Regions from separate parts of the Homo sapiens genome. Here regions 1, 2, 3, 4 and 6 are each reported to be linked to region 5. The links are microRNA targets in miRTarBase. Many come from high-throughput screens and were not tested one by one. Region 5 holds a microRNA gene; each other region holds the end of a gene's coding sequence.

Region 1 (4,000 bases), not on the chromosome of region 5:
AAATGGGAAATCTTTCTTCTTAAAGTGGCCCAGACTGAGACTTTTCCTTGGGGAAAAGGGTTAGTAGCTCTTTGTAAGGCTGGTGTGTATGTGTGTGTGTATATATATATACATATATGCATGATGCTGTGCAAATGCCCAGGGCTGTCTGGCATTTTCCACAAAATGAGAGCCTGAGATTGCCTAAGCCTTCTGATGCCTTCTCCAGGCCTGGAGGCACTGCTTCATTCAGAGGACACAAAGGCCTGACCACCTGGCTTTAGCAAGCTAGGACACCCAGGGTGGCTTCTTTACCTTTCTCCTCAGCTCTGAGAAGGCTGCTAGCCAAGACTCTGGATTCTCTGTGGCCACAGTCATATGGTGAGGGCCTCTTGGAGTTCATTCAAACTTTAAGGGAGCCCCACAGCACCGGCATGATGGGTAAGTCCAGGCCTAAGGTTAGGAAGCAAATCCTGGAGCATGAGGAAATTGTAGGCTACAGTGAGCTACCAGTGGTGTGCAAACTGGAGACCCCCAAGACAGTGAGAGAGGCCACAGCATCTGAGGGAATGGAGCTCTTTCTTGGCCTGAGGTTCAGAAGAACCTGCACCAAAGAAAGGCATCCCTATCAATGTCACTGTTCCTGAAATGATGGGAGAACCACATCCCTGCTTCAGGGAAGCAGTCCCTGTCGTCTGGGGCGCTGAGCCCTTTGGCCTGAGATGAAGGATGATGGTGTGATGTATCATGGCAGTGTGACTGAGACTGGATTGGGGGATGGGGACAGGGGAACATAGGCAAAAATACACATGTGCCACTGGATCCTGAGCTGCCATTGTACCTTGGAGGACTGGCGTTTCTCTGGGAAGTTGGGAGGTGGGAAGAGGAAGGGTCTCATTTTCCTGCCCCTTGAAACCATGCTTACCATTCCTTTAGAAGATTGCTCAAGCTGCCTCCAATTGCCTCTTTCCAAAACCAAAGCATAGGAAAACAAGTAAAAACAGCTGAGGCTGCAGCATAAGCAACTTAGGATAGAGTCTAGGAAGCACCGCCAACAGAGAAGACTGCCAAGAAACATTTTGAGTTTTTCTTCTCTGGAGGTGGGTCCTGGTTCCTCCCATGGAGACCACGATTCTGTGTAGTCCTGCACGCTGGGCGGGGGATTGCCTGGAGGTTTCTTTAGACCTGTCTAGCTCACACAGTCTTGATGCCTGGGTTTTAGGCTGCTGTACTGTTGCTGGGGCTCACTTCCTGTGGGTAGGCTGTTATTTTGCCCGCAGATCAAGTCCTCACTGTCTAGATGCCTCTATCATGGGGATCTCTTCTTCCCTCTCTGGATGGCTCTGATCCCCAAGTTATTTCCTGTTGCCTAGGTAACACCTCTAATTGGATGCCTTTTAATCGTTCCCTTTTTTAAAGGGATAAATGTGGATTTTATTTCCAGGTCCTGTCAGAGGGCCCTGCCCTAGAGAACACGTGCGCCCCTGCGTGGGCAATCCCTTCACTGTGACCGCAACCATGGGTTGGATGGGGGGCACTCACTGGGCTGGCCTGACAGTCACAGTGAATCCTGAAAGCATGGTTTTCACAGGAACCCACCTTCAGGATTTAGCAAGACTGACGTCTCTCCTGGCCAGCGCTGCTTCACTGGCTTCACCCCAGATTAGGGCCTGTGTTTAAAAACCAATCCCAACTCAAATCAGAAATTACCCAAAATAGCTGGAGAGTCACTGAGATCTCAGGTAAGCTTTCCCTTCCTGCCATGAACTAGAAGGGGAAAGAAGAGTTTGACATTCAAGTTTGACTCTAATGCTGGGTGCGTGAGCGCATGCGTGCATGTTTGTGTGTGTGTGTGTTCCACGCACATTTGCCAGGGAGAGAGATTTCACAGCATGGCTCCAGCTGGAGGCGGTGAGGCGGTGCTTTTCTAAGACTTCCTATCAGAAGCTGTGCATACTGGTGGGTCACGCCGTGCCTGTATAAACTCTGGCACCTGTCCTTGCCCTCATCATATATGAGAAAAATGGGCAGAGAGAGTGTTCGTTTACACCCCCAGACCACTATCCTTTCAATGAAGCCTGGGTATCTGGCCTTCCTCCAGGTCAGGGACCCCCTATGCTGCAGAAGGCAAGTCTGGGAGAATCTGTCCCTCAGCCCGAGAGCAAAACTGTAATCCTAACATTACTTCCATCCACCAGTTTCACCAGCTACCTCCCTCCTGCCTTCCTCTGCCTCCAATAGGCTGTGCATGGAGAAGACAAATCCTCTTGATAAACAATATTTAGAAAGGGATTCTATCTTTCCTGACCCCAAACACATCATGGCCTCTGGAGCCAAATACCCTGACATTTGCAAGATGGCTTCTTTTGGGTTCCTGGTGCTGCAGGCCCTGGTTCCCAAGGACGCAGCTGGCAGAGGTGCCTCCTTCAGAGGAGGAGGAGGAGAAGCTGGAGGGCTGCGCCCGGCAACCCCATGATCTCTTAAAGGGGGAAAAGTTGAACTGATCAACAGTAGTTAAGAAAAAAAAAATCCACACCAACAAATAAATATCTTGTCTGAGAAGACTCAGATATTCCTGGTTAATATTGAAAAGCACTGCTGTGGATGAGCTTGTGAAAGAAAGGACGGTTGGGGGATTCAAGATCTGCCGATCCGAGCCTGGAGATCAGCCAGCTAAAAGCCCAGCAGGGCTCCTGCAGCCTCACCGCTCCCCTCCTCACAGGTGCCCTGGACCGCCCACCATTAGAAGTAGCTGCCCTGTGCTCTGTGCTAAATGGACTAACTCTGAGCTGAGAAAGGCCAGCTAAGCCCCTCACCACTGCAATTTCCAAATCTGGGGGAAATGCCACAGTCCGCAAGTTGGTGCTATGTTTCATCTCATTGCATAATACTACACCATTCTCTGTGTGTAGTGGCTGTTCTATATATATACATCGGGAGGCAACATATGGCTGTCCCAACCCCCACCTGTCAAAACTGTGACTATATCACTTCTGACGACCAGAAGGAAGCTGCTAGGCTGGGCCAGGATTCTAAATGCTGAGGAGGTAATTCAGAGCCACGAAAAGTTGCACCATATGCTTTGGGGTTGCCGGCTGCTTCTGTGCATGGGGACGGGGTTTAGTGCCAGTCTGCAAAACCCTCCTCGCTGCGGTATGCCCTGGGTGTGGGCCTGGGGGGCCACGTTTTCTCTCCCTGAAGGAGAATCTGCTGGGGGCCACGGTTCTCCAAGAGGGGACTCACAAGGAACACAGGCGTCCCCAAAACCTGCCCTTGATAACATCAGGCCTGGCCAAATAGTATTTCTTTAAAAAAATTTTTTTTGTTTCATTTTATTGGATAAAGATTAAGAAAGCGCCAGCAGTGACTGAGAGAAGCAAACCACGCCCGGCGGCCCCGCGGCCTGGAGAGGGTCCCCGGCGCGGGCGGACGGGCGGTCTACCTGGAGGCGCTGGTCTCGGCCAGCCGGTTGTTCATGATGCCCAGCGCGCCCACGCCGCCCGAGAAGCCGTTCTGGCGCGTGTTGACGCACACGCTGCGCGGGTAGCCGTTGGCCGTCTCCGACAGCTGCTTCTGCAGCAGCGCCAGCGACACCTTGTTGGAGGCCGTGAGGTCGCGCATGGAGATGAGCTCGCCCGAGAGGCGGCGGCCCTCGGCGTCGCTGTCGCGGGCCGCGGGGTCGGCACCGAGCGCGGCCAGGCGGCGGCGCAGCCGGGAGCCTGGGGTGATGGCATTGCGCCGGGCCAGGGGCGCGCCAGGAGCCGGGCAGCAGCGCGCGCAGCAGCGGCAGCTCAGCTTGCGCAGCATCCAGTTGAGCACCTGCTTGATGAGGATGGAGATGACGTTGAAGAGCGAGTAAATGCAGCACACGCCGAGCAGGATGAAGAGGAAGTTGCCCAGGCGGTAGAGCCCCTGGTTCCGGTAGGCGGCGTGCTGGCTGCTCACCAGGTCCCCGAAGCCGATGGTGCTGAAGGTGACGAAGCAGAAGTAGAGCGAGTCCACGTAGTCCCAGCCCTCCACG
Region 2 (4,104 bases), not on the chromosome of region 5:
GCTGGCACTTTGGGGACCACTTCTGCCGCCTCTCAGCCACGCTCTACTGGTTTTTTGTCCTGGAGGGCGTGGCCATCCTGCTCATCATCAGCGTGGACCGCTTCCTCATCATCGTCCAGCGCCAGGACAAGCTGAACCCGCGCAGGGCCAAGGTGATCATCGCGGTCTCCTGGGTGCTGTCCTTCTGCATCGCGGGGCCCTCGCTCACGGGCTGGACGCTGGTGGAGGTGCCGGCGCGGGCCCCACAGTGCGTGCTGGGCTACACGGAGCTCCCCGCTGACCGCGCCTACGTGGTCACCTTGGTGGTGGCCGTGTTCTTCGCGCCCTTTGGCGTCATGCTGTGCGCCTACATGTGCATCCTCAACACGGTCCGCAAGAACGCCGTGCGCGTGCACAACCAGTCGGACAGCCTGGACCTGCGGCAGCTCACCAGGGCGGGCCTGCGGCGCCTGCAGCGGCAGCAACAGGTCAGCGTGGACTTGAGCTTCAAGACCAAGGCCTTCACCACCATCCTGATCCTCTTCGTGGGCTTCTCCCTCTGCTGGCTGCCCCACTCCGTCTACAGCCTCCTGTCTGTGTTTAGCCAGCGCTTTTACTGCGGTTCCTCCTTCTACGCCACCAGCACCTGCGTCCTGTGGCTCAGTTACCTCAAGTCCGTCTTCAACCCCATCGTCTACTGCTGGAGAATCAAAAAATTCCGCGAGGCCTGCATAGAGTTGCTGCCCCAGACCTTCCAAATCCTCCCCAAAGTGCCTGAGCGGATCCGAAGGAGAATCCAGCCAAGCACAGTCTACGTGTGCAATGAAAACCAGTCTGCGGTTTAGGGGGTCAGGGGGCCACAGAGAAGGGGCAGCTGAGCCCCAGTCCCAGGGTGGATCTGTCCTGCTCTGTTCCCTGGCATGTTGGTCATAGTCTGCACTTTGTGGTGGCAATTTAAGCACAAAGGTACTCATTTGTAATCAGATGAGCTGCAGCTCCCAAATTTCAAATTTTGGCACGATGAATTATTTTTGTTTCTCTTTGCAGAGAGCCAAATATGGGGCTGATGGGAACTGCAACGTCATTAAGTCAAAAATGGAGTGGGCTGGGGAGTGCAGAAGTTGGGCAGAAAGGGAGGAGGAGGGCAACAGGGAATGAAGCTGGTTGAGTGTGGGGCAGGAGGACTGGTCAGTCACAAGAGCTTCAACCTGCCCTGCGAGCCCTCTCTGCACCTGCTCAAGAGAAACCCTGAGAAACCCCAGTAGGTGTGAGCTCCTGGGTGTTCATTCATTTTGTTTGACACCAGGGTTCTTCAGCTATTGATGTTTGTGGTGTGTGGGGACTCACATGAGGTTCTTTATGTTGATCAGATGTGCATTTCTTCCCATGCCTAAGTATCTTTTCTAGAAAGAAACCAAAATCACACGGGGAAGCAGAGTGAGCCTCTGTGCTTTGAGCTCCCTGCAATGACGCATGGGAGGCCTCAGAGGCTTGAAGCCCAGAGAAGGTCCTGGGCAGCCCAGCTGAAGTGAGAAGCACATCCGGGAACTCCTGCATGTCCCCAGCGCCCCCCACCTGCTGGGCCCACCCCGTCCCTGCACCCTGAGGCCACTAGGCCTCCCTGTCTGCTGGAGAGCCCCTTGGCCCTTCCCTCTTTCCTCCACCCCTCTCCCTGCCTCCCTTCGTTTTCCTCCCATCCATATCCAGTGTGCTATAGCTCACCCGCTGAGCAAGCATCTGTAGTGACCTGCTTTCAGTGTCAGCAGTGAGCAGGCTGGGCTTAGTTTACACATTTCCTTTGGACACCCTGGAGCTCCAGAGCCCTTCAACCCACCAAATCCACTTCAGCACTGGACCCGCTGCAGGTGCCACACCAACGAGCCCAATTCTCGGGGTCCCCACTGGTCTCTGTGTTCCTCCTACCTCATTCAGATCCACTGCTGCCATCCTGTTTACCTACTGGGACCAGATCCCAGAAGTGAAGTTGCCCAAAGGGGGCTTCTCTGCTTGTGCTCTATTCGGCCACCACCAGGGGTCCCCACACTGGCATATGAGGGTCCTGAGTCCAGGGCATAGCACTGAGCCCACTGAGCTCTCTTTATTGTTCCAGATCTGAAGAGGGTGGGAAATTTAAGGAGAGATTTAGAAAATCTGATTCCAGGTCTGACTCTATCAGGAACTAGTCATTTGACCTTGATCGTTTCTCATTTCTGTGGGCCTCAGTTTCCCCATATGCCAAATGAGGAAGCAGATCTAGATGATTTCCAATGTCCCCTTTCATCTCTCAAACACTCTGATTCTGAAATGTGTGTTTTCTGTCTGTAGTCATCAGATCCCCTGCATTCATTTATTCATCCATGCAAAGAGCATGCATTAAGTGCCTACTAGGTGTAAGGCACTGTGCGGGAGATAGTGATGAATGAGGCATCATAGGCCATGCCCAAAAGCAGTTGTCTGATTTATCTCAGGATCATGGTAACTCAAATTCAGCCTAAGAGCACAGAAGCCCCATTTTTGCTTCACTTCCCGTTTCTTTCTAAACTGCATTAAGAGCCAGCTCCTCCTTCTCATACTTTCTTCCCGCAGTAGTGGTAACATGGGCAGAGAAGAAAGGGGGGTGAAAGGGAAAACATCATTTCTCTTAACCCTCCTCTTCAGCCCAGAGGAGGGTTAAGAAGATAACTGACACTTGTTCCCCCTCACCTCCCTCCCTGTTTATACCCAGATGGAGAGAGAGGGAGAAGATGAGCAATTGATGTGTGACCGACGGAGGTGGGTTCCATCAATTCTGTGTCCCCAGGTCCCCCAGCAAGGTGGGGATTTGCCTTCAGCTCCATGGAGCAGGGCTCTAGGGCCTCAGTAGTGCCCAACAGCACAGCCAAGTCACCAAGGGGACCAAGCCCATGGGCACCTCCCCTCTGGTGGGCATTTCAGATAATTTTCTTCAGGAGCCTTGAACAAAAGGGAAATCACAACTGAATAAATGAAGGTACCAAAATTTACATCAATCAGTGTTATATGATGTATGTTGGACAGTAATATATATGTTTCAAAGTAATAATTTTGTATATATTTTAAATAAAGTATTATTGCTCTTTCGGTGTATAAGCCTAAGTTCTTGCCAAAATTTGCACCAAGACCATACATATTAAGCCCAGGATCCAATACCCAATACTCCTATATCAGTTTGTTCAGACTGCTGTAACAAAATGTGTTAGATTGGGTAATTTATAAACAACAGAAACTTATTTCTTCCAGTTCTGGATGCTGGGAAGTCCAGGATAAAGGTTTAGGTAGATTCAGTGTCTGGTGAGGGTTCCTGCTCTGCTTCTTAGGTGACGCCTTGTTGCTGTGTCCTCGCATGGCAGAAAGGGAAGGGGCACTCCCTCAAGCCTCTTTTCAGGGGCACCAATCTCATTCACCTCCCAAAGGCCCCATCTCTTAATACTATCACATTGAGTATTAGTTTCCAACACATGAGCTTTGGAGACACCAATATTCAGGCCATAGTGATGCCTGAATAAGACAAAAGACTTCAGGAAGTCTAGAGCCTGAAAGTTAGTAGCAAAGCTGGAAAGACTAAAGATAAGATGACAACTGGGAGACTGTTGCAATAACATGGGTCACAGCTGGGTGCCCAGGTGTTTTGTTTTGGTTTTATTAGGATGCTGCTAAATCACTCCAGCCAGTTAGTCTTCTCTGACTTGCAGTGTGCCACTTTCATAATCCTATCTGGCCTTACTTGAACCTTTAACGAACGTTGATTTCCTAAGATACCAAGATATCTGGTTCTGGTCTCCTTCCCTGAGACTCGCAGGATCAGCACTGCTTGATTGTTTTATTTTTTTGAGATGCAGTCTCACTCTGTCACCCAGGCTGGAGTGTAGTGGTGTGATCTTGGCTCATTGCAACCTCCGCCTCCTGGGTTCAAGCGATTCTTCTGCTTCAGCCTCCTGAGTAGCTGGGATTACAGGGCTGTGCCACCAAACCTGGCTAATTTTTGTATTTTTAGTAGAGATGGGGTTTCACCATATTGACCTCCTGACCTCAGGTGATTTGCCTGCCTCGGCCTCCCAAAGTGCTGGGATTACAGGTGTGAGCCACCGTGCCCAACCCATTGATTTA
Region 3 (4,104 bases), not on the chromosome of region 5:
CAACAGGTACCAGAAGAAAGGGTAGTCAGTTTTTTGGTTTTTATAAATTATGGATTGTTCTTTATATATCTTGAATTTTTCTTTTTTTCCTATTCCCAATCTCTTTCCAGGGCGTGATTGACTACATTTTCTATTCCAAGACTCATATGAACGTGCTTGGTGTCCTGGGGCCTTTAGATCCTCAATGGCTGGTTGAGAACAACATCACTGGGTGTCCACACCCTCACATCCCTTCAGACCACTTCTCACTGTTAACACAACTTGAACTCCACCCTCCACTCCTGCCTCTTGTCAATGGTGTTCACTTGCCTAATCGGAGGTAGTGGAGTACTGCCCCGCCAAGACGGGGATCTGTTGCTATGGACCTGTACAGTTGTAAATCAAAGTATGTAGGAGTGAAGTATGGCCATCCTTAAGCTGCTTCTTCAGGTTTCTTTCATTATGTGTTTGCTGTAAGACTTTGTACATTTTTGTGCATATTGGTATCATTTGGCAGTAGGGCTGGAACCAAAGTATTACTCTCTTTACAAAATTTTAATTTAACATGTTTTTAAATTGGACCTTCTTTATATTGTATTAACAGCCAGCATTCAAAATTGATAAATTACCAATTTGAGGCCCAATAACAGTGTATTTGTTTTTCCAAAACAAATACTTTCTTTTGAATGGTTTCAGTGAGCCAACCATTTTATAAAAGGCAATTTTTAAAAACTATAAATACAGTATTTTAAACTGAATGATGATATGCCTTCCAGGGAAAACCTTGAATTTTTCCTTTATAACTGACTTTTGGATTCCAAAGTCATTTGCACATTAACAGAGTACTTAAATTTACTTGTTCAGTCCATAAACTATGATATAGCCTCTATACATGGTAAGAAAATTTGAAAAATTAAAGATGGTTGCACAGTATACTTTTATAATCCAGCATGTAACACCACATGACAATTTGTTGGCCAAATGCTGGTTTGGAGTTTTTTTGAGGAATCACTTTGGTTTTTTTGTCCTTTATATATAACCTTATTGGAAGTATTAATTCTAAGCCTGTCTCTCAAGTTTATTTATAGAGAAAAAGTAAGTAATCTGTATTGCCACATACCTTGAAAATAGAATGTGGTATGTTTAGGATGCCCACGGAATGAATTTTTCCTTATTCCAATTCAACCTTCTGTCTGGTTGTGCCAGGAAAACAGATGTTATATGACCTATGTCATTTTTGCCATTATAGTCAAATGTTAAAAGAAGAAAAAAGTCTGCTGAATAAAAAGGCCTTGATCAAAGTTTCAGATGGGGAAAATCATACAGATATTTTATGTGTTTCCAACATAGATTATGTGGCTGTTGGTTTCTTGAGATGACAGTGCAAAGGATTTGGGAGAGAGAACAAATTTGGGGCAGTAGTTGAAAACGTTGGGTCATTTTCCTGACTCTAGCTGCCAAATGGCCATCATATGCTTTTAATCTTTGTTTCAGTTGTCTGTCAGGGTTGAATTAAGAAGCTACTGGTTTATTCCCAATTGTTGATGCCTTTAGGTATGTTGGAATCTTTTTTTTGCCTAGGAGGGGCCAGTTGAAAATCTGTGACTCAAGAGGCAGTGAACAGAATACTGTTTTCTGGGGAAAAATTGGTTGGCTACTTGATGTTAATTATGGCACAGTAACAGGAAAAGGTTGTGTCTGTGTTTTTAAGTTTTTCTTTATTCTGCTTTTTTGCTGCTATAAGAGTTTTCTGAAATTTATATTTTAAACTTTTCATGCACTTTACTGTTTCTAGTCTCAAAATGTGATATTTTTAATAAACAAGAAATTTTCCATTATGTGAATGAAATTTTAAAAGACAATAGCCTATATTTGTGTCTCACTAATATATAAAGTATAGGTCAAATTTAAATTATTTAATTAGTTTTAAATATACACAATTTGTCTCCTCTTTCAAACCTGACATCTTCGGCTGTTTTATTAGTCTTAAATGATGCATTTACTTTGGTCATTTTATGCTAATTTCTTCCATAGTAAATTAATCAGGCTATATAAGGTAATATTTCCCCAGAGGGTAATTTTAGTGGGACGAGGGTGGTGGGATGATGTCATATCATACATGGGATTGCATCAGAAGGGTTCTGTAAAGCCTGAACTCCCTTTTAAAAGTGCCTAGTGATAGAGGCGTTGTTTGTCATCTATTATAATTGGAATGTCATTGTAGTTCAGTGAATTTTGATGTAAATAAAATATCTTTTAAAAATGTTAAAGTACCAGGATAAACAAACAAAAAGAAACAACCCTTAAGATGACAGATTTTCCTCAACATGCAGGTTTCCCTTCTTATATACCTCAAGTATCCAACATCTAGCCATGCAAATTGATTACCTGAAGCATAGTACTGGAAAGTAGAATAGCATGAAAAACTTAATTTTGTGGACATTACCTTTTTTTGTAATCAGCTACTGTATGTTTTATTTTAGATCTTTTGTTTTGGGTGGGTTTTCTGCTCTGGAGGTATATGCACTAACAAAACATTTTCCTCCTTTCATATACGCATGTTAATTAGCAATGTGAGCAATATTTCCTACCATACTTCACTCCCAATATTTTTTGAGATGTTTGTATAAAATGGAATTTAAAGTTCACTTATGATTGTATATGAACCACAGAGGAGCCCATTTATTAATAAAAAACTTTTTTAATAGTTAAATGTAGAGGGAAAAAATAAAAAAAAATGGGAAACATTGTAAACAGCTTAAGTTTATTTTGTGTATGATCGAGGCACTCTGTTGCAGGAAGGTGTGTAATTGGGTTCTCTCTGCTTCAAATGCGCTCTTTCAAACCATTCATTATCCTGTGTATTTTTAATGTGGTTTTAGTAAATGTTGGTAGTAGCTCTGTTGAAGTAGGTAATTGTGTTATGTTTTGGGTGGTACACACTTGGGGCATGGTAACCCAAATTTCATGTGCACGGTTTCCCTTTAGCCCACTGCCCAAATTTCACATACCCTTCACCCTTTGTTCCCTTTGTAAAAGGAGTGGTATCTGTTTTGAGCTGCCAATTCAGATGATCAGAAATGCTGCTTTCCTCAGCATTGTCTTGTTAAACCGCATGCCATTTGGAACTTTGGCAGTGAGAAGCCAAAAGGAAGAGGTGAATGACATATATATATATATATTCAATGAAAGTAAAATATATATGCTCATATACTTTCTAGTTATCAGAATGAGTTAAGCTTTATGCCATTGGGCTGCTGCATATTTTAATCAGAAGATAAAAGAAAATCTGGGCATTTTTAGAATGTGATACATGTTTTTTTAAAACTGTTAAATATTATTTCGATATTTGTCTAAGAACCGGAATGTTCTTAAAATTTACTAAAACAGTATTGTTTGAGGAAGAGAAAACTGTACTGTTTGCCATTATTACAGTCATACAAGTGCATGTCAAGTCACCCACTCTCTCAGGCATCAGTATCCACCTCATAGCTTTACACATTTTGATGGGGAATATTGCAGCATCCTCAGGCCTGACATCTGGGAAAGGCTCAGATCCACCTACTGCTCCTTGCTCGTTGATTTTGTTTTAAAATATTGTGCCTGGTGTCAACTTTTAAGCAACAGCACTGCCTAAAAGCAAGCAGAGAACAGAATCCCAGCACCATTCTATAGGCAACTTTTTAGAATTCAGATATAGTAAATCTGTTCCAGATTTATGATGTTTTATGTAAAAAAAATTTTGTATAATAACATAGCTGAATATTTTTGTTTCATTTCTTTGATGTAAGGCGTGTGAACATTCGTTTGAATATCACATGTTGAAGTCAGGTATGGCACAATGGGTTCTGAGACCAGCTTTTCCTCCCCTCCCATTTGCCTTGTTCCAAGCTCTTTCTTTTCAAATTACTTTTCTGATATTCATAGGCAGGTATTTAATTTTACTAATTAGCATCCTGTGTGAATGTATTAAAGAAGCCACTGTGTTTTAGTGTAGTTGGCAAAAATATAAAAGCTGTTTCTTATTTGCCCCTATTTTTTTGGTGTCTTAAAGTTATATATTAAATCACAGAGAAGCAAGGGAGAAAGTTGAAAGATATCTAAGGCTCATATCACTTGATTCTA
Region 4 (4,104 bases), not on the chromosome of region 5:
TGTAATCCCAACACTTTGGGAGGCCAAGGCAGGCAGATCACCTGAGGACAGGAGTTCAAGACCAGCCTGACCAACATGGAGAAACCCCATCTCTACTAAAAATACAAAAAAATTAGCCAGGCATGGTGGCATGCCTGTAATCCCAGCTACTTGGTAGGCTGAGGCAGGAGAATTGCTTGAACCCAGGAGGCAAAGGTTGCGGTGAGCCGAGATTGTGCCATTGCACTCTAGCATGGGCAATAAGAGTGAAACTCCATCTCAAAAAAAAAAAAAAAAAGGAAGGTGGCGGGGTTGAGCACATTGTCAGTGGTTAGGGTTAAATCACCTTTTTCTAATAGGATAGCTTCATATTTTAGGATTCTTGAATCTGTAAGCCATCTCCCTGCTTTTTGGCTAAGAATGGTTTTAACCTGATGGGGTGTGCTTAGGATGAGACTTCCCCCAAAGGTTATTTTTCTACTTTCCTCTGTCAATAAAACAGTTGCTGCTGTAGATTGGATACATTCGGGCCACCCACAGGTTACCACGTCAAGAATGTTTGACAGAAAGGCTGTGGGCTGGCAATGGCCCCATGCTTTTGAGTGAGTACTCCTATAGCTGCCCCATTGCTTATATTAACAAAAAAGTGAAATGGCTGTTCTAAGGATGGCAGAGCTAAGACAGGGGCAGTTATAAGTAGATGTTTTAGTTCCTCAACTTGCTGGACTTCTTGTGGGGTCCAAAGAAGGGGGTCAGGCCCTTCTTGGGTAAGTTTTAGATATAGAGGTTTTGTTTTTAAGGCATAAGAGTCAATCCACAGGCAATAATTTCCAGCTAGCCTGAAGAATTTTCTAAGTTCTTGTTTTGTCTCAGGCAGTGGCAGGGATATGATCCCTTCCATTTGTTCGGGCCCTATCTTCGGCTTACCTTTGCTTATTAAGTGCCCCATGTGTTTTACCTCAGGTTCTACAAGCTGGAGTTTACTTTTTGAGACCCGTAACCATTGTTCCCTTAGGAAATTTAGAAAGCTAATTAAAATTGCGGTTACTTGGTCTTTGGTGCCTCTGGAAATGAGCAGGTCATCCACATATTGGAGTAGACATAAGGATGATGAAAGAGGGAAATTCTCTAGGACTTGTTCCAAACTTTGACTAATAGGTTTGGAGAGTCTGTAAACCCTTGGGGTAGAACTGTCCATCACTACTATTGCTTCCAACTGGAATGAGGGTCTTCCCATTCAAAAGCAAATATGTCCCAGCTATCCACAGCTAAGGGGCAAGCCCAGAAGTCATCATTGAGGTCTATTACTGTGAACCACTGGCAGTCATGAGGGATCTTGCTGATAATGGTGTAAGGGTTAGGAATGACAGGGTGGGTGGTCTGGACTATTTGGTTAATGGCTCGAAGGTCTCGCAGTAGCCGCTATGACCCATCCGACTTTTTTACAGGCAATATTGGAGTGTTGTAAGAGGACATATGGGGTTCAAGAAGTCCTTCCTGAAGGAGACCTTCGATTATAAGTTATAAACCTATTCTGCCTTTCAAGGGAATAGGGTACTGTTTTCTCTTTACAACTTCCCCAGGATTTCTTAATTTTACATGGATTGGAGAAACTTGTAATTTTCCCCAATTTCCTTCCTATGACCAAACGTCATCAGAGTGGATTTGGCTCTCCTCTAGGGTGGTAAGTAAGTTTAAGGAAGTAGAGAATTTTCCTTGATTAACGTATAGACCTATACCTAATTTTGTCATTAAGTCCCTCCCCAACAGGTTTGTCCCTGCTTCTGGAATTAACAGGAATTTGATGCTAGCTAATTAGTCCTGATACCTGACTTTGCAGAAGCCCACAGGCTGAGGCCAGGAGGTGGTGCTGGGGAGGAAGGCAGAGAAGATGAGTGATCAAGAGAATGCCAGAACTTTTCTCTTACTGTTGTTTTACCAGAAGCCACTTAATACAATCAGACAATTCTTTAAGAAAACTGCAGAGTGCCTTGTTCTTCCAAGAAACTTGGTGCTGAAGAGATCTAGGAAAATGTGTAAGTGACTGTGTTCTAAGAGGCATTTTTTTAAAGAGTTTGACTGGTGTTTGCCAGTTTCTGGCTATTATCTCTTTCACAGGTTCTAGAATATAGGTCTTATTGGCCTACTAGCGCTAACCTGTTGAAGTTTATTGATGAATCTGCAGGGTGCCTGTGAGGAGAGCTTCACAGAGATGGCCAGACCCTGGTGAGAGAGAGTGACATCAGTGTCATTTTACACCCTGCAAAGGAGGGGCCGTATTTTCGCATGAGAAGAAGGCACATTGGTGATTGGTGGTATTGAAAGCTTATAGCAAGAAAAAGTTCTGTTAGAAGAGCTTCTGTTTCTCAGAGCTCCAGAAGCTTTCTTCTGGGAGACCCTTAATAGCATGACCTGCCATCAGGAGAGGAGGCTCAGACAGCTTGCTTTTGATTCCTGGTGAAGGGTGGGTTTGTTCCAAGTAGGAAAAGCAGCTTCTACTGAGGCAGGGACTCTACCTCCCCACTCTTTACAGAGTCCCAGAAGCTTATTGCTGATAGGGACGTTACCCTGGCTCAAGTCCTTCATGGAAGAGACCAGGAACTAATGGCCAGGAAGCCTAAATTACTTAGCAAATGTTTGGGCCAAGCCATGATTTGGACTCAGCAAGTCCAGAGATCCTGCCTTTACATCATCATCTTTTGTTTTCTGGAGTGCTGGTAGGTTAGATCCCAAACTCTGAAGTACTGTCTGTGTTAAAACACTTTTTCCCCATCCCATTTTGAGCTAGCCTCTTCCTCACCAGGCCCATGCCCTTTCTCCTAATTCGCTTTAAAGAGGCAACAGCATGCAGTGAAAGGACCTCTGAGTTTGTATCAAACAGACCTGGGTTCAAAGTTCTGCTTCCCTGTTTCATAGCTATGTAACCTTAAGCAACTCACTTACCATCTCTGAGTCTCTGTTTCCTTGTCTGTAAAACAAGGACAACAGTTAACTTTCTGGGACCTAGCATTCAATAGGCACTCAATCAGTGAGCATGATTCCCTAAGGTGGAAGAGTTTGTATCACCTTCGGGATTTCCAGTGGGTTTAGGGTGTTTTCTGCCATACTCCCAGTAGACTCTATACCTTCTGACTACCCTGGACCATAAAGGAGCAAATAAAAAAGACTCAAGACTGAACACAACACAGAAATGGGTCAAAAGAAAGCTCTTTATTGATTGACTCAGCAATGCAGGGCTGGCACCCATCAGCTTCAAACCACATCTTATCGCATCCACTCCTGTCCACTCCCGTCCACTTTGCCCTCTTCCAGGCTGAAATCTTGCTTTCAGGCAAGGGCTTCCGGCCAGCCTTGCATTAGTTCTCAGCTATGGTCTTCTGAACCCAGTGCTGGATGGAAGTCACCTTCACATACACACCATACTCAGCCACAGCACAGCTCTTATCAAAGCTTAGGATCCCAGCCGCGTACCAGGTGTCCTCCTCCAGGTCGTGAACGGCAAAGGCACTGCCCGCATCGCCATAGCAGGTGTCTTCCTGGTACTTAGACATGCCGACACAGAAGGTGTGTTCGTTCAGTATGGGCTGCACCCCTACAGGGCTCTTCGGTGCCTTCCATTTGGGGCATGTGCTGCCTTCATAATGCGTTATGCAATCGTATTGGTCAGCCACAGGCAGCATGACATACTTCAGATGGTCAGTAAGTTTAAAGTTGTCACTTTGTCCCCAGCCAGACACGTAACCCACACGCCCTACTTCTGCATAATTCTTTGAAGGTAGGCAGATGGGCATCACTCTCTCATTAACAAGCACCTTCTGTTTGAGTTTGATGAGCCCAATATCTACCTGGTGGTAGTTAGGGTGTAGAACCACCTTCTCAATCTCTACAAGCTGCTTTTTCCCCACATAGAGTGTTAAAGTAGGGGCAATGTCTTTCGCTGTTGCATTTTCTGAATGGTTCAGGAAGAGATTTTTAGCCGTGGTCAGCAGCCATTGTTCATTGATCAGCGTGGCCCCTGTGGTGAGATTATGGTGGGAAACCATCTTAGCCTGCCAGGGAAAGCTGCCTTTGGCATCCAGGTGTCCACCCAGGATCCGCTGCACTGGGTTTGCCGGATTCTTGGGC
Region 5 (4,104 bases):
ACATGTAGATCCAAATGATAAGGAATGCCTGATTAACTGTGGACATTATCATTAAATGAAATGAAAACTGAATTATGCACAGTTTTCTGGAGGTCTTGATTCATTTGATTATCTTCTGATATTTTCTGTTGCTTTTTGTGGTTTTGTGAGTTGTTGCAGGTTTTGATGGCTTAGGTAAGCAAGGGAATGGAGGTGCTACCCAGCAGTGAGATTGTATGGAGATCATTGGGAGGACAGGAAAACAGCCTGCCATGGTAGGTGTGCACGATTAAAATTAGGTCCAGAGTAATCTGGAAATAAGACAGCCTTGGAGGAAAAGGAAATCCAGTTTTCTGTTGAAGCTGCTCATTGAACCCCCGACGAGGTCACGGAAATAGCCCCTAAGAACACACGAGGCTCCATAATCGGTGCTAACATCTTATGACTTGCAAATGCACTGTGTTCTAGGATGCATAACAGGTTCTTCTCAGATCTCAACTCAGGACACTATTTCAAGAAAAGTCTCGTTACTCTTCTGTCAAGGACCCGCGGCGAGACTCCCGTGTGCCGCATGCTGCTGGGTCTCCATCCTGCTGGCAGCTAGTGTTGACCTAAACCTGCATGCAGGGGTTCTGCTGGGGTGAAAATGGAATAAGCTGCTTCCTTCCTCATGGGCAGGGAATGCACAGTGCCTGGTAAGCAGAGAGAGTTACTTGTTTAAAATTTCACTGTGCTGAAAGAGCTAGTACCAACACAAAAATCACAAAACACAAACCGGTTAAGTACAGAATGTCTCTCTCTGGGCATTCACTCTCAGAACAAAACAACATTGATGGAAATAGCCAAGAAGGAAGGGTGAAATATTTGCAAGCAGACAGGCATGAGGGCTTGAAGATATATTTAGGCTTCAGCTCCACCTTGCCTGGAAAATTTCTCAGTTACAGTAAACGAGTAGGGGACACAGCACCTGGATGACCAGGTTCTGAGAGTCAGCAACGGCTCAGTGCTGGGACATGTGGGCAGACCCACTGCCCCTGTAAACTCCTGTCTTCACCATGAGCATCTGCAATCCAGCAAGACCTGGTGACCCTCATGCCTGCACACCATGTTCTGTAACCTGGATTTCCAAAGGAGACCATGATTTCATTTAAATGTTTTTCCCCCACATATTTTTCCCTACAACCTTTTACAAATTTTCCCTACAACCTTTTACAAAGATGGTTCTGGAATCAAAAGCCAATTGATAGGCTTAGTAGAATTCTATCCTAAGATTTTACTGAACCAGACAGACTTTTCTTTAATAATGCCTGCCTAGCTGGCCTGAGTCCTGGGGATAAATTGTGAATTAAGTGTCACCATGTAGATAAAGATGCACAGCATCAGATAACTTCAGAGTAGTGCTACCGGACTGTGCCTTCATCTCATAGACTGAATGTTGTATCCTCCCAAAATTCATATGTGGAAGCTTGAACACCCAGTGTGGCTGTATTTGGATGCAGGGCCTTTACAGAAGTAAATAAGGTTAAATGAGGTTATAAGGGTGAGGCCCTGATCCAATAGGATTAGTGTCCTTGTAAGAGACACCAGAAGGCTTCCCCCACCTCTTCCTCCATACACAAAGAAGAGATCACATGAGCATGCAGGGAGGCTGTGGCCACCTACAAGCCAAGGGCAGAAACCTCAGAATGAGATCTACCTTGCTGGCACCTTGATCTTGGATGTCCAGCCTCTAGAACTGTGGGAGATACATTGCGGTGTCTACGCCACCCAGTCCATGGTATTTTGTGCTGGCAGCCTGAGCTTACTCACACACTGCATGAGTAAGCATACGTCTCCACTAGGTGTCTGCAGTACTAGTGATAACTGTAAGAACTTAGATTCACCATGCAGTAATGACTTGCTGAGTTTAGATTTGCCATCCAGTGATGACTTGCTGTGTGCCTGGCCCTGTTAAACACTCTAATCTGTATTTGTTTCTCCTTTTGCTGTGGGACATTTTCCTTCCATGTTCTTGCTGAGCCCTGGTCTGCAGTCTGTAGGGAATCTTGCACATCAACATGAAGACAATGTGCTATGCTCAGACAGGCTGATGTGGCATTGCTTTGTTGAAGCCATAACAAAAAACTGGGCTGCAGTCTCAGTTTTACATGTTTCATTTCCCTTTGGATTCATATAAATTTGACAGATTGTATTTCTGTGTCATCCCAGCACTGGGGGTCATGTGACAATCCTTTGGGTAAAAGTTGATCATGTAAACTTCCTGGGTTCACAGCCCAACCACAATATCTTTGGAATGAAGCTGTCCCAGCAGCAAGTTTATAAAATGGTCACTTATGGCATGGGACTTGTGGGGACAGGGGAAGAAAACCCCATCTAGAGACCTTGCTCCCAGTGATTTCTCTTCTCTCTTTAACCACTTCACTCATTTGAGTCTAGAAGGTTCTGGAAGATTCTGCCTTGAGTAAGTGATACCTGGACTCACTCTCTGCTTCCATTCAGTGGAAAGCTGAGTGGTCGCTGGGAACAAGCTACTGCCACATGGGCCATGGGATAGGTGCCTTGACAGGACCAGGGCTTCGAAGAGCGGGGTCAGAGGTGAGGGAAGAAAGGAGGGCAACCCTCTACCACCTATTTTGGTGGGATTCAGATTGGGACTGACCCTCCCTTCACCTTCTTGGTGGCAGCCCACCATGGGGCCAAGGGCTGTGTTCCTCTCTGCTCAAATCCCTCCCTCGTTTCCTCTTTCTTTGTCCTCCTATTTCAGTTCACACCAGCAAATACACTGCTCAGACTGTTCATGTGGCTATGGGACTGAGGGCTGAGGGTAGAGCTAGAGATTCTGTTTTGACCCCAGGTGTGTTTGACCCATCAGGTTGGCCAAGCCAACTTTGCCAATTGGCGAGGTGAAAGCCAGCACACCGTCCCCCTCCTGGCAGCCCAAAGTCAAGGCATCCTTTGCAGTTCAAGCAAGAAAGCAGAGAATCCTTCAGTCCTCAGTGTGGGACCAGTACTCCCCACTCCACAGCTGCGAAGGGACGCAGTCTGCATTGTTCAGGTAGCTAGACCTACAGCATCACTTTTTCAGGGTATCATGCATAGCAGTCACATCTCTCTACAGGAAATGTAAACCCACGGCCCATTAGGAGGGTGTTCTCCTGTGTAGACACAACACTGCCAAGAATTTTGCCAGGCGTGGCCTGATCTACAAAGTAGCGTCAATCTGCAGGAAGGAGCTCTTAATATTTGAGCAACAAGCAGCTAATTTCCCCTTTCTTTTCTAAACACAGTTTGAGTGAGGGTGTGATGATTTGGAAGAAACCCAGGTAAGCATGACCTTATTTAAGAAGACAAGTTTGATAGTCAAAGTCCCAACCCTGAGTGCTTCAAAAATGAGAGAAAGATCTGTGTTCCAGTCCAGATCTGCGACTAACTTATATGTTAAGTTTGCTTGGCAATTGAACTGGTACCTTTTCTCCCCTCGATTTACACTAGATAGGCCTTAAATGTGGAGTCTAGAAAATGAGAAACAAAAGAGTGATGCCAAAAGTCATTATTAATGACAATAGAAATTTTCTGTAGGAAATAGTCATCTCCCCTTCATTCTCATACCATCCATCATTTTTCCTTGAAAAGCTATTCCCCCCTCCCTTCCTCCCAACCACTCTGCTTCCTTCTATCCTCCTTTCTTGTCTTTCTTTTTCACTTCCACCTTTTATTCAGCCAGTATTTCTCACGTGTCAGTGTTGTTCTTTTTCACTTCCACCTTTTATTCAGCCAGTATTTCTCACGTGTCAGTGTTGTGCTAGGCTTCAGAGGAACAACCAGAAAGGCATGCGTGTTCTGTCCTTCAGAGCTCTCTGTCCTCCCAGAGCTCTCTGTCCTCCCAGAGGGGTCTTGATGGTGCTGGTAAACTGTGCTAAAGCTGCATGGAAGCTGGGCTGGGAGCTGAGGGACACAGGCAGGGGCCACCTAGCTCAGGGTCTGTGTGAGTATGGGGCGGAGGCTCTCATGGGCTTCCTGAGGAGGGGCTGCCAGATCCAATTCTCAAAGGCTGACAAGGACACAGATGGGCAAACAGCATCAGGTGCTCCAAGTCTAAGGACCAGCAAGCCCAGCGACCTGGCC
Region 6 (4,104 bases), not on the chromosome of region 5:
CTCACGGTCCCCACAGCGTCCTCACCGTCCCCACAGCGTCCTCACCGCGTCCACAGCGTCCTCACCGCCCCGACAGCGTCCTCACCGCCCCGACAGCGTCCTCATCGCCCCCACAGCGTCCTCAACGTCCGCAGCGTCCTCACTGCCCCGACAGCGTCCACAGCGTCCTCACCGTCCCCACAGCGCCCTCACCGCGTCCACAGCGTCCTCACCGCCCCGACAGCTCCCTCGCCGCGTCCACAGCGTCCTCACCGCGTCCACAGCGTCCTCACCGCCCTGACAGCTCCCTCGCCGCGTCCACAGCGTCCTCACGGCCCCGACAGCGTCCTCACGGTCCCCACAGCGTCCTCACCGTCCCCACAGCGTCCTCACCGCGTCCACAGCGTCCTCACCGCCCCGACAGCGTCCTCACGGTCCCCACAGCGTCCTCACCGCCCCCACAGCGTCCTCACCGCGTCCACAGCGCCCTCACCGCCCCCACAGCGTCCTCAGTGTCCACAGCGTTCTCACCGCCCCCACAGTGTACTCATTGTCCCCAATGTCCTCATTGTTACCTCCAGCGTCGTCAGTGTCCACAGCGTCCTCACCGCCCCCACAGCGCCCTCACCGCCTCCACAGCGTCCTGTCTACAGCGTCCCCATTGTCTCCACAGCCTCCTCACTGTCCACAGCGTCCTCACCGCCCCCACAGCGTCCTCACCGCGTCCACAGAGTCCTCACCGCCCCCACAGAGTCCTCACGGTCCACAGCGTCCTCACTGCCCCAACAGCGTCCTCACCGTCCACAGAGTCCTCACCGCCCCCACAGAGTCTTCGCCATCCCCACAGCGTCCTCACGGTCCACAGCGTCCTCACTGCCCCCACAGCGTCCTCACAGCATCCTCAGTGTCCCCACAGCGTTCTCACCGTCCACAGCGTCCTCACCGCCCCGGATAGCGTCCTCACCATCCCCACAGCGCCTTCACCGCCCCCACAGCGTCCTCACCGCCCCTACAGCGTCCTCACCGCCCCCACAGCGCCCTCACTGTCCACAGCGTCCTCACTGCCCCCAGTGTCCTCACTCCACAGTGTCCTCACCGCCCCCACAGCGTCCTCACTGTCCACAGCGTCATTGTCCCCACAGCGTCCGCAGTGTCCACAGCGTCCTCACTGCCCCCAGTGTCCTTACTGTCCCCACAGCATCCCCACAGCATCCTCACTGCCCCCACAGGGTCCTCAGTGTCCCCACAACGTCCTCACTGGCCCCCACGTTATCACTTAGCATCTCTCTCATGCCTTCCCATGTGGCCTTTTGGGAGTGTGTCTGGAAGGGGAGAGGTCACCCACTGACTCCTGTCTGCCCCTGAGGTTAGGGTGGGCATGTGAGGATGTGTTTGTGTCCCCTTGAACCGCCTCCTGGGGCCTTTTCCTGAGTTTGGCGAGGGGAATTTCCAGGTCAGTCGTGCAGAGAAGACCAGATCAGAAGGGTTTATTCAGCACCAGAGTTTGGAAGGGAGACGCAGCAGGGTCTGGACCGCATTGTGCCCCATGGTCCTCCCAAGCCTGGAAGTGCGGGTTCGCCTCCCTCGGGGTAGGGTGGGCAGGAGTTCTGTCCCACGTGGTCTGGGCCTGCAGGTGGGGTGGGTCTGAGAGATTGGGCAGCGGAGGAGGCGGGGACCGGTCCAGGTTGGCGCGAGGGCCCCTCGGGCAGGGTCCTGTCGAGTTTGCAGGCCCGTGTTGCCCAGCGCCGGTTCTCTCCTCAGGACGCACCGGTTCTCTCCTCAGGACTCGTCGGTTCCGGCTCGCTCGGCCACCAGCGGGTCGGTCAGCGACAGCCGGGCTGCGGCGCGAGCGCGGGCCCGGGCCCGCAGCCTCCGCAGGCGGCACAGCAGCAGCACCAGCAGCAACGCGTGCAGCAGCCCAAGGCCCAGCAGCGCAAGCTGCGCCGCCAGCGCCCCCCAGCAGAGCGGGCCGGGAGCGCAAGCGGCGCGCAGCTCGTCCTCGGCCAGATAGGGCAGCAGGCGGCCGCGCAGCGCTGGGGGCGCCACGCAACGCAGGTCGCGGTAGGGCGCACGCTCGGGGCGGCCGGCCAGCCAGGCGCGCAGCGGCACAAGGCGGCAGTCGCAGCGCCAGGGGTTGGCGCCCAGGTGTGCGGTGCGCAGCGCGGGCAGCGCGTCCAGCAGCCCCGGCGGCAGCGCCGTCAGGTTGTTGCCGGTCAGCACCAGCTCGGTTGTGTCGACAGGGAAGGCGGTCGGCAGCGAGGCCCAAGTCAGCCCGCGGCGCCCGCAGTCCACGAGCGTCCCCGCGCAGCTACAGGGCGCCGGGCAACCTGCGGCCGGGCGGCTCGGCGGGGCCAGCAGCAGGAGCAGTAAGCTCAGCGCCCCGCGCGGCCCTGCAAGGGAAGCGCCGCAGTAAGCCGAGCGGTCGGCGGGCACCTGGGCGACATCTCTGAGTACCCAGACTGCCGGCCCGGCTCCATCCAGCCCCTGATGCCCGGCGTCCCGGTAGCCCGCCAGCCTCTCCACCCTGACCACCCCGCACGCCGGCTGGAAGTCCCCTCTAAGTCTGACCCAAGTCTCTCCCAGCTGCAGCCAAACGACCAGAGCTCCTCTCAACCCGGGTCGGCCTAGGGAGCAGCCGGGGGCCCGACCGGACTCCAGACTCACCGGAGCCCATGGCGAGAAGACGGCAGCCCGGCTTACTCTGCAGCGGGAGGCGTAGGCGGGAGAGCCGAGCGATAAGGCCGCCCCGCCCCTGCCACGCCCGCACCGACCACAGTGCTGCGGCCTGGCCAGAAATAGCCCAGAGGCCGCGCGGACGCGCGCTGCAGCGGCAGATAGCACACTATCGCCGGAGGCCGCAGGCCGCTCAGGCTTCCGCTCCCACCCGCTCTCAGGGGCACACGGAGCACTCGGACACCCGCTGCGACGTTCACCAACATTGTTCTCCTGTCACCAGGACAGGACGCGGCATTCACAACGGAAGAAAACGGAGCATCGTGTGGCGGGAAGGGATCATGCGGGTGGGAACATCGGGAGGCCTAGGCTCAGGATCCCGGCACACCACAGCGGTGCTGGGGAGAAGAGGCCTCGAGCGAGGGCAGGGGACGGCACCGAGAGTTGCCAGGAGGTGGCTCACCGCCCAGTGCCCCGGGGGCCCTCCAGGTCGGGCCGGGCTGTGGAGAAGGGGTGTAAGCGGTCACGACCCCGCTCCTTGCAGCCTCTGGCCTCCTTATGTCTGGAGGGCTCCCATTTGATTCAGCCCAACCCTGCCCGCTAGGCGTCTGGGGATAAGGGAAGACTCGGCCCGCCTCGACAGAAAATGGGGTCTCAGCACTCGCTGGGTGACCCGCGGGAGCAGGCAAAGGAGGGCTCCCAAGTCCGTTCTGCAGCACTGGGGCAGGGAACAGACCCAGGATCCTGGGAATCCTCTTCTGCCTAGCTTTGCCTGCCTGCCAGAGCAGGGCCTGCGGTTTGGGTGCTGTGACCGTCCGGGGGCGGGGGAAGGGCAAGGGAGGCGGATCTCTGAAGTCCCGCCCAACTTCGCTCCTGATCCCCCAAGGTCAGAGAGGGCCAGCTGGGCGGGGGCTACGGTCCAGGCCCCTCGGAAACAGACACAATGACCTGGGAGGGGGTGGTGCTGAGAATAAATTAGGGTCAGCTGGGGGCTGTGGCCCCGCGTCTCCGGGTCGGGAACAGTCCGGTCTGGTGTCCAGGGGTGCGAGGGCGTCCCGGAGACGGACGGTGTGTCCGCGGCGAGCGTCACTGGTCCTGCATCTGCTGCTTCATCCTCTGCAGCATCTCCTGCATGCGCCTCAGCTGCGGGCGGAGACAACCCGGCGGGTGAGCAGCACCGCGGAGGAGCATCCCTGACGCCCGCCTCCGCCGCCCCCGCCGCCCCACATACTTCCTCATCCTTCATCCTGATAAGCTTCTCAGTCTCGGCGTCCGGGGTGGGCAGCGGCAGGATCGGGATGGGGCTCTCCATGCGGCTGTCCTGGGTCAGTTTGCTGCGCGGGGCGGGGGGGAGGATGGGCGGGGCGGCGCCACCGGGAGGCTCAGCGTGGGCTGGCGATGCCTGGCCCATCCCCGCCACTGCTGAGGCCCTGCCCTCCGGAGCCCTCACAG

The links. Region 5 holds the annotated microRNA hsa-miR-4290 (UGCCCUCCUUUCUUCCCUC, at 2,577-2,595, opposite strand). A microRNA usually pairs through its seed, bases 2 to 8, with sites in the 3' UTR of a target mRNA and lowers its output. Matches are read on the target gene's strand: a 7mer-m8 pairs with bases 2 to 8, a 7mer-A1 pairs with bases 2 to 7 and ends in A, and an 8mer does both.
Region 1: miRTarBase lists KCNK12 as a target of hsa-miR-4290. Seed matches in the 3' UTR shown: 7mer-A1 at 1,980-1,986.
Region 2: miRTarBase lists GPR45 as a target of hsa-miR-4290. Seed matches in the 3' UTR shown: 8mer at 1,119-1,126.
Region 3: the mRNA of CNOT6L is a reported target of hsa-miR-4290. The part of its 3' UTR that is shown has no 7-base or 8-base seed match.
Region 4: the mRNA of HPR is a reported target of hsa-miR-4290. Seed matches in the 3' UTR shown: 7mer-A1 at 3,279-3,285.
Region 6: miRTarBase lists SEPTIN5 as a target of hsa-miR-4290. Seed matches in the 3' UTR shown: 7mer-m8 at 3,133-3,139.

Annotation. Positions count from the first base shown.
Region 1 is chr2:47,517,490-47,521,489 of GRCh38, forward strand. It overlaps KCNK12 (potassium two pore domain channel subfamily K member 12), which reads right to left. Exons shown (of 2, transcript NM_022055.2): 2 at 1-4,000. The coding sequence ends at 3,418. It also overlaps a transcript of MSH2 not described here. Among named protein-coding and RNA genes, the nearest start is that of MSH2-OT1, 8.0 kb to the right of the region's middle. RefSeq lists a silencer at 3,450-3,719.
Region 2 is chr2:105,242,154-105,246,257 of GRCh38, forward strand. GPR45 (G protein-coupled receptor 45) reads left to right here. Exons shown (of 1, transcript NM_007227.3): 1 at 1-1,314. The coding sequence ends at 824. Among named protein-coding and RNA genes, the nearest start is that of GPR45, 2.5 kb to the left of the region's middle.
Region 3 is chr4:77,716,650-77,720,753 of GRCh38, reverse strand. It overlaps CNOT6L (CCR4-NOT transcription complex subunit 6 like), which reads left to right. Exons shown (of 12, transcript NM_144571.3): 12 at 111-4,104. The coding sequence ends at 323. Among named protein-coding and RNA genes, the nearest start is that of CNOT6L, 100 kb to the left of the region's middle.
Region 4 is chr16:72,076,313-72,080,416 of GRCh38, reverse strand. It overlaps HPR (haptoglobin-related protein), which reads right to left. Exons shown (of 5, transcript NM_020995.4): 5 at 3,171-4,104. The coding sequence ends at 3,336. Among named protein-coding and RNA genes, the nearest start is that of HPR, 15 kb to the right of the region's middle.
Region 5 is chr9:90,020,875-90,024,978 of GRCh38, forward strand. MIR4290 (microRNA 4290) reads right to left here and starts at 2,661; the gene lies at 2,567-2,661. MIR4290HG (MIR4290 host gene) reads right to left here. Exons shown (of 4, transcript NR_038882.1): 3 at 3,689-4,104; 4 at 1-671. RefSeq lists an enhancer at 4,013-4,062.
Region 6 is chr22:19,722,119-19,726,222 of GRCh38, reverse strand. It overlaps SEPTIN5 (septin 5), which reads right to left. Exons shown (of 12, transcript NM_002688.6): 11 at 3,884-3,986; 12 at 2,904-3,795. The coding sequence ends at 3,739. GP1BB (glycoprotein Ib platelet subunit beta) reads right to left here and starts at 2,684. Exons shown (of 2, transcript NM_000407.5): 1 at 2,644-2,684; 2 at 1,452-2,369. The coding sequence starts at 2,653. The coding sequence ends at 1,759. SEPT5-GP1BB (SEPT5-GP1BB readthrough) reads right to left here. Exons shown (of 12, transcript NR_037611.1): 10 at 3,884-3,986; 11 at 2,644-3,795; 12 at 1,449-2,369. RefSeq lists enhancers at 1-207, 1,803-2,580, 2,581-3,359.